Linked DNA regions of Homo sapiens. The protein of the gene in region 1 purifies or fractionates together with the protein of each later gene. This does not show direct contact. Each region holds a gene or a part of one and is shown on either strand. Other genes may lie near its edges.

Region 1 (3,500 bases):
GAACAGAGCCTGGCAGATAGAAGGCACTCTCTCAACATTCAATGATTGAAAGAATAAAACATGGAGGTCTATTTACTTCTACTTTTTTTACCCTAGTTTCATCCTTTTCTTGTTAGTGAAAACTAACAGGCTCCTAATGCTCTGTCCATCTCCTCACAGCCCCTCTCCTTCCAGCCCTCTAATGCAAATCTATCTATTTAATAATAATCAAAGATGACATTATTGAGCCTATTCTGTACCAGGGAAATGTTCAATCACTTCTTATGTGCTTTTGAGGTAGATACTACTAGTATTTAAATTGTTTACATTAGGGAATCAAAGCTCACAGAGATGAAGCTAACTTGCACACAGTCACAAAGCTCATAAATGATGGAGCAAACTTGTGTTTCTTTGACTTTGGAGCCAGCATATGTCACCCTCAGTGTGATCCTGTCCCACAGTAGGAGGCTACTGAGCCCTCTCTGGTAGTTACGACCTCCAGATTTTCCTTACCTCTTTATCCTGGACTCATACTCTATCTTCTGTTTGGTCATTTCCTGTTTCAGGCTGGAAACTAAACTGTGCAGTGCACTGTGGTTGCTGCTGCTGTTGCCCACAAATGTCTCACTGTTGTCACTGCTACTGGTGGCACGACTACTTCGACCTCCCACACTCCTGTGGTCACTTTTGCTTTCATAGTCCCTGGGGTGGGAAAGGTCGTCCTGCGGGGGCCCATCCAAAACAGGGTCCTCAAAGTTCCCCCCAAAAAAGTCTTGCTCTGGGCAGGTGGTGGTAGAAGAGCGACAGGAGTTGGAGTTCTCAGGGAGGGAGATTTCACAGGAGGAAGTGGACCAGGTAGCACTGTCAATGCTCTGCTTGTCATCAAGGTTCATCATGGAGAACTGTTGATGGACATTATCATAGGTGGACAGTCTGTTGTGCTGGCCTAACTCTCCAGCTTGTTCTTTCTGCTTGTTATCCCTCAGGGTCACATAGCCATTTGGCAGCCAGCTCATGTTTCGAACATTTGTGGGGTTCCCGAGTGTGTCGCTGTTCAAAATGCCCATGCGCACCGTTCCATTCTGTACACTGTGCGTGCCCATTTTGGTACCAGATACCTTCAGTGAAGAGCTCCTTCTGGCCTGTAGGCTCCCATTGGGGGTGGTTTGGGTTTTCTCAAGACCTTCTGCATTACTGCTGCTGAAGGACCCATTGGTAACTATCCCACTACCCTTATTAAAGGCTGGGTTCTTTTTGACCATGAGAGGGGGGCTTCTAGACACATCTAGCTTGTGAACACTGTTCTTTGGGCTGTTGGTTTTGCTGCCTGATAGAGCTGTGGGGGATCCATTGTTCATGCTGCTTCTCTGGGGTGACTCAGACTTGTCCCAGGAGCACTGCCTACTAGGGCTGTCCTTGGTGTTATTGTTCTCCTTGTTCTGTAACTGCCCCATGGTGGCTTTCTTCTGAATTTCATTGTTGTTGCTCACTCCATCTTGGGGCTTGCTTTGTAGTTCTGCATCTTTGGGAAAGAGGCAATCATGTTTGCTAATCATCACTGACATCAACTGCTGGACCACCACAGTGCCTAGAATTGCATAGAACATAAAGTAGCATGAGTGAGACAGTTTTTATTTATTTCTATTTCAATGTGACTCTTAAAGAAACACATTCAAGAGAACATTCATTATTATTATCAGTACCAAACCATATTCTTAACTATGATAATAGCAATAGAAGCTAAAACATCTTGAGCATTTACTTTGTGCCATGAACTGTGTCAAGCACTTTGCTTTTGTAATTTAATTGAATTTTGAAATAAATCTATACATACATACTGTTATTATCACTGTATTATAAAGGTTAAGTAACTTGATTAAGGTTACACGTTAAGGACCAGACCCAGGGCTTGATCCCAGGGTTCATTAAAAACCTGGGCTCTTAATCATAATACAATGTTTATTAAAAATTTGACATTTAATTCTGAGAAATATTTCTTAGGAGGAGGTCACTGTGACCTCTCATCTAATAATTGCCTCAAACTATCAAGATATTTTAGTGGCATCTGTAAATGGAGCCCAATACAATCAGGTGGATGCATGGTTTCTCTAATATATCAAGATAATGAAAATCCATAAGACTTTTGTTCACCATTCAAAAACTTCAGGGCATTTTAAGCGACATCAGCCAGAATGGTGTAGTGAAGACCTCCAAAAATCCTCTTCACCATATAAGCAACTAGCAAAAATCTCCAGAATCAACTATTTTGGAATTCTGTAAATTAACTAATGGCTTGATGCAATCTGGAGAGTGTTTACTTAAGAAAAATGGCTGAATCTCAGTAAGAGCAGCAAGGTCTGTGGCGTTTTAACTTGCTCTAATCTTCTCCTCCTCTCCTAGAAAACCAACAGCCCAAAATCACAAAGAAAACCAGCTATCTGGCAGCCACTGGAATGGGCAGAGCAGGGTTGGATTTTATGTAGTTTCTATATAAAATACTTAAAACTTGAGATTTGGTGAAGAAAATGATGCAAAAAGGCTTTTGACAATGCATAATTTCATTACAACAGCAGCTAATTGAGAGGCTGTCAGGGAGTAGAAACCTGACCTGAGGCAAGGCCACTCTTTAGCTTCCGGTGACACCTGGGAAATATAATTCAAAATCAGATTTTGAAGAGGAAAAAACATATTATATTCATTTATATTCTACACACTTTTCTTGTGATGATTCAAAACTTATAATATTTTCGACTGCATATCAGCAATAAGCAAGATCTACTGCTACATCAATGTTATTCAAATTTTAAAGTTCATAAAAATTACCTGGAGATCCTGTTAAAAGGAAGATTGAAATTCAGTAGGCATTGGGTGGGACATGAGATTTTGCATTATAAACCAGCTTCCAGATAACATCAGCAATAATAGAATAGTAGCACTGGCATCACCTGGAAGCTGAAAATTTTAGCACCCAATGCAGAGCTTCTGAATCAGAATCCCCAGGTGATTCCTGGGTGCATTACACTTTGAGAAACACTGTAGTAGATGCAAATGTTTCCCTTATATCTTCCAAATTAAATTTCTTGAAAGTCCGAAAGAGAGGATTCATTTTTTTTTTCAGATGAGAAAATTGAGGGTTAGAGAAGTTAAACTATTTGCTCAGGGCACAGAGACGATGTGATCAAGGTGAAATGCAATATTTAGTCTTATTCCAAATTATGCATTTGTCCTACTATATTTCAGCTGCTGCAATTTAAAACCGTAGCAGTAATAAGTAAACTTGGGATAGTTTTAAAGATAAAGTTAGATAAAGATAAATATCTATTGAATTACCATCAATTATTACAGAATTGTGAAAAAAGACAATGTAATAATTGATTGTATTATATAGCCTTCTTTTCTCTTTTAGGAATCTCCGAATTTGTCATCATATTTTCCATGCATGTTAGCAGTGAATCTGATAAAAAGAATTTTAGAGCAGTTAGAATAACTGTCAAACTTGTGTACTGTGTTTGAAGACATTG
Region 2 (3,500 bases), on another chromosome or scaffold:
TGCATCTATTGAGATGATCATATGATTTTTGTTTTTATTCCTTTCTATGTGGTGTATCACATTTATTGACTTGCATTTGTTAAACCATCCCTGCATCACTGGTATGAAACCTATTTGATCATGGATTCTCTTTTTGATATGTTACTGGATTCAGTTAGCTACTATTTTAAGGATTTTAGCATCTATTTTCATCAGGGACATCAGTCTGTGGTTTTCTTTTTTGGTTAATGCCCTTTTCTAATTTTGGTATTAGGGTGATGCTGGCTTCATAGAATAAATTAGGAAGGGCTCCCTCTTTCTCTGTCTTGTGGAATAGTGTCAATAGCATTGCTACCAATTCTTTGAATGTCTGGTAGAATTCTGCTAAATTCTGTCTGGTCCTAGACTTTTTTTGTGGATGATTTTAAAATTACCATTTCAGTCTCGCTGCTTGTTATTGGTCTGTTCAGGGTATCTAATTCTTCCTGATTTAAGCTGGGTGGGTTGCATTTTTCCAGAAATTTACCCATTTCTTTTAGGTTTTCTAGTTAGTGCACTTAAAGGTGTTCATAGTAGCCTTCAATGATCTTTTGTATTTCTGTGGTGTCAGATGTAATATCTCCTGTTTCCTTTCTTATTGAGGTTATTTGGATTTTCTTTTTTTCTTGGTTAATCTTGCTTATGGTCTGTCAATTGTATTTATCTTTTTAAAGAGCCAGGTTTTTGTTTCATTTATCTTTTGGTTTTTGTCTGTTGGTTTGTTTCAATTTCATTTCATTCTGCTCTGATTTTGATTATTTTTTTTCTTCTCCTGGGTTTGCGTTTGGTTTTTTCTTGTTTCTCTAGTTCTTTGAGGTGTGAATTTAGAGTGTCTGTGTTCTTTCAGACTTTTTGATGTAGGTGTTTGGGGCTATGAACTTTCCTCTTAGCACCGCCTTTGCTGTATCCTAGAGGTTTTAATAAGTTGTGTCACTTTTGTTGTTGAGTTTGAAGAATTTTTTTAATTTCCATTTTGATTTCATATTTGACCCCATGATTATTCAGGAGCAGGTTTTTTAATTTACATGTATTTGCATGGTTTTGAAGGTTCCTTTTGGAGTTGAATTCCACTTTTATTCCACTGTGGTCTGAGAGAGTGCTTGATATAATTTCAGTTCTCTTAAATTTATTGAGGTTCATTTTGGGGCCTATCATATGGTCTATTTGGAGAAAGTTTCATGTGCTGTTGAATAGAATGTGTATTCTGCAGTTGTTGGATGGAATGTTCTGTATATATTTGTTAAGTCCATTTGCTCCAAGGTATAGTTTAAATCCATTGTTTATTTGTTGACTTTCTGTCTTGATGACCTGTCTAGTGCTGTCAGTAGAGTATTGAAGTCCTCACTATTATTGTGTTGGTGTCTATCTCATTTATTAGGTCTACTAGTAATTGTTTTATAAATTTGGGAGCTCCAGTGTTAGGTGCATGTATGTTTAGGACTGTGATATGTTCCTGTTGTACAAGACCTTTTACCATTGTATAATGTCCCTCTTTGTTTTTTTTAATTGCTGTTGCTTTAAAGTATATTTTGTCATATGTAAGAATAGCCCTTATAAACCTCTTGTTTAGCATGATATTGTGGGGTTCTCTGGCTTAGGTGAATAGCAAGCCATTTTCATGAATTACCTCATGCCATTAGGGGAAGAGGTATCCTCATTTTTTTCAATTTTTTATAGTGATCTGTGTTCCTGTTTCTCTCATTCAGTGTTATTTAATTTATTTGAAATTTTAAAAATTAATTTATTAATCTTCATTGTTTTATGGTTGCTTTCTAAAAATTTTATACTTTTTTTGATTGGGCCATGTTGTCCTAATATTCTATATACATTGTAATCGTTGATTAAAATTTGTACATCAAAAAAGCTACCTGTTGGAATCTTCATAATGTAGCCTTGTCCTGGAATAGTCTGAAACCAATTGTCTTGGCTAGAGATTCTGGGAGTCTGTCAAACATGTTCTTAGAATGTGTCTTGTCTGAAATTGTGTGTGTGTGTGTGTGTGTGTGTGTGTGTGTGTGTTTAGATAAAGAACGTTATTCAGGTTTCTTCTCAATAGTAATCACTTGCTACATCTATTTTTTGTGTGTGTGGTACTATATTCAGTGCTGCTGTAACATCTAACTTTGGTCTCAGCAGACTCAAGCTGTCATTTTAAAGTATGCCACCATTTCTTTCAGCACTTTATGTCATCAGAGACAAAAACCAGAAAGGCCCCTGGAAGCCAGAAATAAATATATATGTGCTACTGGTTTTTTTGTTTGTTTGTTTTTTTGAGACAGAGTTTCACTCTTTTTGCCCAGGCTGGAGTGCGATGGCATGATCTCGGCTCACCTCAACCTCCGCCTCCCAGGTTCAAGCAATTCTCCTGCCTCAACCTCCCTAGTAGCTGGGATTTCAGGCGTGTGCCACCACGCCCAGCTAATTTTCTATTTTTAGTAGAGATGGGGTTTCTCCATGTTGGTCACGCTGGTCTCGAACTCCCGACCTCAGGTGATCCGCCCACCTCGGCCTCCCAAAGTGCTGGGATTACAGGCATGAGCCACTGCGCCTGGCCATGCCACTGTTTTATTTGTCTTTAAACAATAAACCAGGAGTTGGCAATTTCCTTTTTTTTTTGAGACAGGGTCTCACTCTGTCACATGGGCTGGAGTGCACTAGCATAATCTCATCTCACTGCAATCTCTACTCCCCAAGTTCAAGTGATTGCCTCAGCCTCCCAAGTAGTTGGGACTACAGACGTGTGCCACCACATCTGGCTAATTTTTGAATTTTTAGTAGAGATGAAGTTTTTCCATTTTGACCAGGCTGGTCTTGAACTCTTGATCTCAGGTAATCCACTTGCCTTGGCCTCCAAAAGTGCTGGGATTACAGGCATGAACTGCTATTCCCAGTCAGCAATTTACTTCTAAAGAGCCTATGCTATTTTTGGTAGCAGGAAGAGCTGCATTGGGAAACTGTAACCGACTTCCCTTTCCTTCTGTGTGGCTCTTTGCATTGTGCTTACTTGGGGTACTTAACTTACATATAAATTTTCCACAAATGTATTTGGTCAGTATGTTTTTGTTACATTTATATGTCTATGAAGAAATTAGGGCCTGTCTTATTTTGCTGTGCCATCTTATGTGGTTTGCATAATTTTATAGGTTAGATTTGTAAAGTATATTCATCTGAGTCTAGCAAGTGGAATAATTTGTTATTTTTATTTCTTCTAGTTATGCGTTCTCATTTTACACAAGACCTTTGGCCAGATCAGAGCACAAAAGATTCTTTCCAAGAAGTAATACTGAGAACATATGCAAGATGTGGACATAAGAATTTACGATTAAGAAAAGATTGTAAAAGTGCCAATGAGGGTAAGATGCACAAAGAAGGTTATAATAAACTTAACCAATGCAGGACAGCTACCCAGAGAAAAATATTTCAGTGTAACAAACATATGAAAGTCTTTCATAAATATTCAAATAGAAATAAGGTTAGACACA

The links. The genes of interacting proteins can lie anywhere in the genome.
Region 2: the proteins of ARHGAP24 (region 1) and ZNF729 purify together in Homo sapiens (affinity purification with mass spectrometry, with the first as the bait; one study listed by BioGRID). This does not show direct contact.

Annotation. Positions count from the first base shown.
Region 1 is NC_000004.12:85,992,650-85,996,149, reverse strand, and holds part of ARHGAP24 (rho GTPase-activating protein 24), read right to left. Parts: intron 1,568-3,500; coding exon 493-1,567; intron 1-492. UniProt on the Homo sapiens protein: Rho GTPase-activating protein involved in cell polarity, cell morphology and cytoskeletal organization. Acts as a GTPase activator for the Rac-type GTPase by converting it to an inactive GDP-bound state.
Region 2 is NC_000019.10:22,310,441-22,313,940, forward strand, and holds part of ZNF729 (zinc finger protein 729), read left to right. Parts: intron 1-3,230; coding exon 3,231-3,500. UniProt on the Homo sapiens protein: May be involved in transcriptional regulation.